2 linked regions of the Homo sapiens genome follow. The protein of the gene in region 1 interacts with the protein of each later gene in a pairwise test. Each region holds a gene or a part of one and is shown on either strand. Other genes may lie near its edges.

The links.
Region 2: the proteins of LBR (region 1) and CALD1 interact in a two-hybrid assay, tested with the Homo sapiens proteins (one large-scale study listed by BioGRID).

The regions. Positions count from the first base shown.
Region 1 is NC_000001.11:225,421,539-225,425,038, forward strand, and holds part of LBR (delta(14)-sterol reductase LBR), read right to left. Parts: intron 2,552-3,500; 5' UTR 2,538-2,551; coding exon 2,373-2,537; intron 740-2,372; coding exon 539-739; intron 1-538. UniProt on the Homo sapiens protein: Catalyzes the reduction of the C14-unsaturated bond of lanosterol, as part of the metabolic pathway leading to cholesterol biosynthesis.
Region 2 is NC_000007.14:134,786,134-134,789,633, forward strand, and holds part of CALD1 (caldesmon), read left to right. Parts: intron 1-3,500. UniProt on the Homo sapiens protein: Actin- and myosin-binding protein implicated in the regulation of actomyosin interactions in smooth muscle and nonmuscle cells (could act as a bridge between myosin and actin filaments).

The sequences.
Region 1 (3,500 bases):
ATAGAAGATTACTTTTATTCTTTTTACTTAACATACTTTGTCTTTGGTCTACTATCTAAAATACTATTTGTACAAGATCTACAGGCTCCATGCACCCTGATATTTCAAAGCTTACATCTTGAAAGTAATTCCACTAAAATCATCTTTGAATAGGTAAAGTGATAAAGTATAATGATGCTAAGAGTAAGAATGTTTCCGTAATACAGGTTTGTCTTACCATTTCATACATGATATGAACTTTTATACACTGTAAAAACCTTACGCAGTTCAATCTACAAGCTACATCTATTTCAAATTTGAACGCTGCTTTTTTAAAAACTAAAATATTAAATAGCATTTCTGGTAACTGAAGGACATTCTTTTCCATTGATATTTAAAACTTTCTATTCCAAACATTTGTTTTATATGAAAACTCCCAAAGTCATCAACTTAGATTTGATGTTTCAGTGACATTTTAATATTATTAACTGCAAGTAACTTGAGTAAATATATACATAAAGCGGAAGACAAAAGGCTGTATAAGGATAAACACAAGTACCAGAATCAGCGGAGTCAATTTAACTTCCACTTCCCTCCTTGCTTCCTTAATGTCGGCCTGGTGGGAAGCAGAAGCAGATCGGCGGGCACTTTTAGGTGGTCGACCAGGGGATCGGGAGCGTGACCTTGATCGACTCCCTCGGCGTCTGGAAGGGGAACTGGAAGTTGAGCCACCTTTCCTTTGCCTAAAGGAAGTTAAAGGCTAGAAAGGGGGAAGAAGGCAAAGAGCTTTACCACAAATCATAACACATACAGACAGACCCACACTAGAAGAGGATAACAAAGGCAGGAACTGCTACCATTAACTCTAAAATCAGCACGGGAAATGTTAGGATCTGAGAATGGATCAGATGAAGCCAATGGAAAATGCTTTCATAATGATCCATCTTTCATGAGACAAATGCAGCCTTTCCATTCCTGTTCTTTGAAGGTATTTCCATGAAACGAATGTATCTAAACCAATTAGCTGTACTTATTTCCAACACCATATGCAAGAAGGGTAATAATTAACATGGATTAAAACTGAGACGACAGGACAAAATAAATAAGCACACAGACCAAAAAAAAAAAAACAGTACCACAGTTTCACTCTGAACAAAACACATAAGCAGATCTTGAAAATAAAACATGAGCTTGGATGACTGGGAACTGTTTCACTGTGTCCCCACCTACTCCGAATCTCCTTATGTTGCTTCTAGGGATGTAGACAAATTACGCCCCAGGCCAAGTCCCTCACCCCAATTTTTGTGTGGCCTTCCTACTAAGAATGGCTTTTACATTCTTAAATGATTACAAACAAAATCAAAAGAACAGTATTTCCTGAAGTGTGAAAATTATCCAAAATTCAAATTTCACTGTCCATAAAGTTGTACTGGAACACTGCCATGTCTGCTCCCTTCCATACTGCCTGGAGCCGCTCCCATAAAGTCTAAAATATTTACTTTCTGTGCTTTATTCCTGGTCTAGAGCACTCGAAGTGTCATCCTCAGCCATGGGTCCTAGAAATGCTCGTTACTAATCTGTGCAAGTACCAAAATTGAGAAATAGGTGTATGGAAATGTTTATAGCATTTTGACAAAGTAATCTCATATCTATCGAATCTGATAGTAAAACTGTGAGTCGTCTATTGTGTATGTCTTTATTTTTCTAGTAACTCATTTTTATGGCATTTTATATAAATGTTTGTATACTACGGATCAGATATCTTAAAACCCAGGCCCTCACCAGACAGGTTGAAAAGCCCTGGGCTAGACTCGAATCTAATTAATGTCACTCTCCTGATTAAATCCTTGGTGTTCAGGATGAAGCCCAAACCCTTGGGCATGGAATATAAAAGCCCCCCCAGCCTGGCTCCTGCTTAGCCCTCCCCTACCACCCCCTTCCAGCACTTGGCTGACTGTGTCCCCCAGACCCCTGACTTTGGCATACTGCCCTCTCTGCAGAAACAGCCCCATCAACTGCTGTTTTTCCTGTTTGTTCTCAGCACTTGGCTAGGTGTCACTGCCTCTGAAAGCCTCCCCTGAAGCCCAGGGCTCTTCTCTACCCTTGATACACTCAACACCACCCACAGCAAACTCCAGACACAGAACGTAGTAAACCCAGGGGACCAACAGATGCAAATGGCTGTCTTTCCCAGTAAGTGTGAGCTTCTTGGGAACAAGGACTATGCCTCATTCATACATTCCCAGAGCCAAAAACAGTATGTGACCCAAAGCAAGAGCTCAATCCTCTGCCTTCAAACCGAGCTGAACTGACTATCCTGAGCTTAGAAACCATACTTAGAGTTATTTCCCACTTACTGTAAACACACTCTGATAAACCAAAGGAGCTCTTACCTTAATATCATTCTCTTTCAATTCAAGCTCTGTTCCATCTTTATACTTCACAGTGTAAAGCTGGGAGGTGCTGTCGTGGCTCAGAATTTCTACTTCATAATAAAGTGAACTCCCAGGCCATCGACCTCTTACCACTTCACCATCGGCAAATTTCCTACTTGGCATTTTCTATAATTAACCTGAATAGTTTTAAAGAAAAAAATTTGAGTCAATACATACACATTTATGTATTCGTCTTTTTCCACAGGCTGATCACTAAAATACAACTTTCCAGAATTGACTGGTCAGGATTTTAGGGCCAGAAAGGCTACATTCAATCTCATTTGGAATCATTTGAGAGGATGATTTAGCCACTGCGTTATCTATGTGACACTAAAGATTAATTATAACAATGTATATAGGCGCCATAAGTTCACACTATGTAAAATGTTACCCACCTACCGTGATCACAGTTCTCGCTAATCAAAAAATGAGGCACAATCTCACAAAGAACACATTTTCTCATTTGTAAATTTGCGTATCAATTTACAATGGCTTTAAAAATGCATTTAATTGTATTTTTAACAAATTGCCTTTATTAAAAACAGCAAACTATAAACCAGACTGGGAAAATCAAGGATGTACAATTAACATGACTATAACCCAACAATAGGAAGAAAAATAATTCCAAGTCTGTAATGAATAAATTTGGGGGTTATTTAGCTTTCAACTCTTACAGCTAAAGTACAAATGCATACCAAGTAACTCTGCCAACCACCCACCTAAGCCAGGGTGGTTGCCTTCATCCAAGCTCACTTCTCTCAAGCCTACAGCAGCCATCAACCCCCAATTATAACATTCTTTTCCTCTGATTCAAAACATGGCCCACAAGCCCCACAATACTCTAGGAATCCACAAGCAATCTGCAAGAACTGCCACTTACGTGAGGCCTGTCTGCCACCCTTTTTGAAATATCAATTGATAGCTGGGTACTTCCAGCTGCCAGACAGTAATGCCGCTCCATCGGCTGACCAGCGGAATCACATTTCCACACAACAAAACCAGGGCTGCCGACCTTCCCCAGTACCACATGAACTAGCTGGGGCCACGTCCAAGGGGCAGCCAGTAGGACAGATATGAGCTGTCTCC
Region 2 (3,500 bases), on another chromosome or scaffold:
TTTTAACCTCTGGGTGGTGGATCCCTGGGAGGCCACAAAGTCATTGCAAGAGGTAAACAAATCTGTATATGCAGCAAGTGCTTTTGGCAAGCTACTCTGAGTAAATAATATATCTTACATCATATGTGCTACTATTTTTCTAATTCTATACATACATTATAATGATAAAATGCTAATTTATTTAAAAGAGTTATTGAATTCATAGTAGCTTTTAAGTTTGTGTTTTTGTGTTTTATTAATGAGTGGACTTAAAACATATAATTATATTATGTGTGGGAAGGTTGGGACAGGAAATTTGGGATCTTAAGTAGAAATTCTTTTTAAAATATGAACCAGTGATCTATTTTTTATTCTCCAAAGCCTAGCCACACCAAGTAAAATTATGTATGTATTTGTAGGTTTCTTCGATTAATGTCTGCCCTGTCTTATTGGTCTGTCAGATATATAAGGACAGGAACCTCTATTTTTTTTTCATTCGTATATACCCAGTGCGTGGCACACGGCAGAATCTCAATAAATATTTGTTGAATGAAATAACAAACCAAGTGACTTGACCAAAGTCATCCAGTTAATTAGTGGTAAGATAGTTCCAAAACACACAGCTCCTAAGTTCCAAGCAGTTAACCTTTTCAATATACCACATTACTTCCCCTGATAGTAAGAGAGCATGTTTTAACAGTTAGCAAATTTAGGTTATACAATGCTGCCCAATCTGCCTATATACCCATGCATCTTAACCAGTATCTTAATCAGAATCAACTGTAGAGCTTTTTGAAAATACACATCCCTGAGACCTATCCTCTAGAGATTCTGATTCGGTAGGTCTAGAAGGGGGTCCAGGCATCTGTAGTTTGTAAAAGTTCCCTGGTGACTCTGATAAAACATCCTGGCTCAGAAACAGTTCTGTGCACCTATCGTTAAAATAATTGATAGTAGATGTATGTAGTTACTTATTCCTCAGAAGCCTATTTCTTTAGTTTTGAATAATTTCTTTCTAAAAATTATAGTTGCATATGCCAAATAATCCGTTTGGCCAGAAGAGCAAAACCTTTAGTTTTGCTTTTTTTTCAGTTTAAGCACAAAGTTATCAACCCTGTAAGGTCAAATTTTTCTGATGAGATTTCCAGTGTTTGCTTTTGTAAAGGACTGGAAATGTGGCAAGAATAAAATTTCTCATGGTATTTCCCACTTCCTTTTCCAGCCATCATTACTAAGGGAAATTTAGGCTTAGGGGGAGGGGTGAATCTAGGAGAAAAAAAATTTTAAGTATTTCTGTTCTTAGGAGGTTTTGAGCAGATATTTCGCTTCCTAGGAAAAGCTGAAGATGTTTTTCTCTGTTTCCACTTTGTGGTGAGGATGCACAAATCCTGAAGAGGGGAGAAGCTTCCTCCACCTCCACCCTCACCCCTACATCTTCTCTAGGGCAGGAGTCATCACAGCCCCTGGTTTAGATGCTTCCCTGGGTGGCCCTTTTGAAAGTATGTGGACCCTAAGAGACAGGAGACTTTGAGTGCATGGATGGGGGATAATTTGCTTTTGCAGAAGGACAGAAAATTTATCTCTAGGTTCTTCCTTTATTCGGCAGTTAGGAATTACATCCTCTGTATTGCACAGAAGAATCTACCATATTCAGAGCACTGAGTACATGGATTATATTCACTAAAGATTGGAGAGCCAAAAGTTTCTCTGCAAGAGTGACCTGATCTAGTAAGAATGTCAAAATTGTTACTATATTTGTACCCATGCTCTTCGGTTTAGAGGGCAGGTGCTTCCGTGTGTACATAGAAGCAGAGCTTGTTGGAGAAGAGGAGCTAAAAAGGAATTAGATTAGAATCCACCTCTGTACAATGGCACCATCTGGACTCAGTCTCCTTCATCTCTAACACTGTCCCCACTTTCTCTGCACCCCAAACTCATACTGGCTCCCAAAAGCTCATTGTTAAACTTTCGAGAATTTTGAGAGCCAGTTGTAAAACACAGCCATTATAAAAACTAAATCATATAAACTTACAATTAAACACATTATATGAAGAGCCAAGATAATAAATACTCAAAACTCTTCCTAATTATTTTGCTATGTTTCACTATTATCTATTCTCTTGAGGTTAGTTACATCTATTGTGGCTATATGGTGGAAATACTGTATAAAATGCTGTGCAACTGAGCTTCTCCTCCCAATTCTTCATTCAGTGATGTCATATTCAGAACTTGAAATTGACCATGATGGAAGTAATTACACCACAGAAATCAGCCCATGCTACAAAGCAGACTCCCCTCCCCTCACCCAAGAACTTGTTGCTAAACATTGACTAGCACATCACTGACCCTAAGGGATGCGGTGGTAAAATTAGCCTCTGCATTGGAGAGCCAAGCGGAATACCTCTGTGGTTCAGTTACATGCATATTCATAATGTATGCTTATGATTGCATATTTGTTTGTTTGCTTGCTTATTTATTTCTCATGCTCCTAGAACATAAGCTCTATGAAAGTAGAGACTTTGTTTGGCTTTTTCAGTGCTGTGATTTGAACCTAAAAATGTGCTGTGTCCTGCACATAGTATTAATAAATGAGTTAAATGAGTGAAAGAAATAAATGTCAGGCTGGTAGTGGTAGCTCGTGCCTGTAGTCCCAGCACTTTGGGTGGCCAAGGCAGGCAGATTGCTTAAGGGCAGGAGTTTGAGACTAGCCTGAGCAAAATGGTGAAACACTGCCTCTACAAAAAATACAAAAATTAGCCGGCCATGGTGGTGTGCATCTGTAGTCCCAGCTACTTGGGAGGCTGAGGTGGGAGGATCACATGAGCTTGGGAGGTCGAAGCTGCAGTGAGCTGAGATTGTACCACTGCACTCCACCCTGGGTGACACAGTGAGACCCTGTCTCAGAAAAAAACAAAAAGTAAAAAAAAAAAAAAAAAAAAGTCTACAATTTCTACTTTAAAAATACCTGAAGCCAGTGTTCATGTTGGAGCTCATTGATTCCTCATGAATTGTATCATTGTTCAGTGTTTAGAACAGTGCCTGGCACATGCTAAGTAGCATGTAGATTTTTATTAGGTAAAAATAAAATAAGTTATCTTCATAACAGCTAATTTTACAGATGAAGAAACTGAGTTACGATTAGATTAAGTAATATAGCTAAGGTCCCACAGCTAGTAAGTAGCTGGGTCAGGATCTAAACCCGGGATAATCTGGAGGCACTGCCCACCTTCTTTACCACTGTGCTATGCTGCCTCTTGCTAGTTACTCCACGTCACTGAGACTCCTCTTTTGTATGTGGCTCTAGAAAGAATTGAGATCTATTTGAGAACAAACTTTGGAGTCAGGAGAACTTGAGTTTGAATCTCAAATTTACCACTTTTTTCACTTACAAAATGGGGATGATTTCTCCTCCACTTTGTAGTTGTCACAACTACTAGAAGTAATATCTTGAAACTGCTTTGCACGTACATGATAGACACTCAATTACAAATGGTCAGCTATTGGCTGTGATTTCCTGTGGA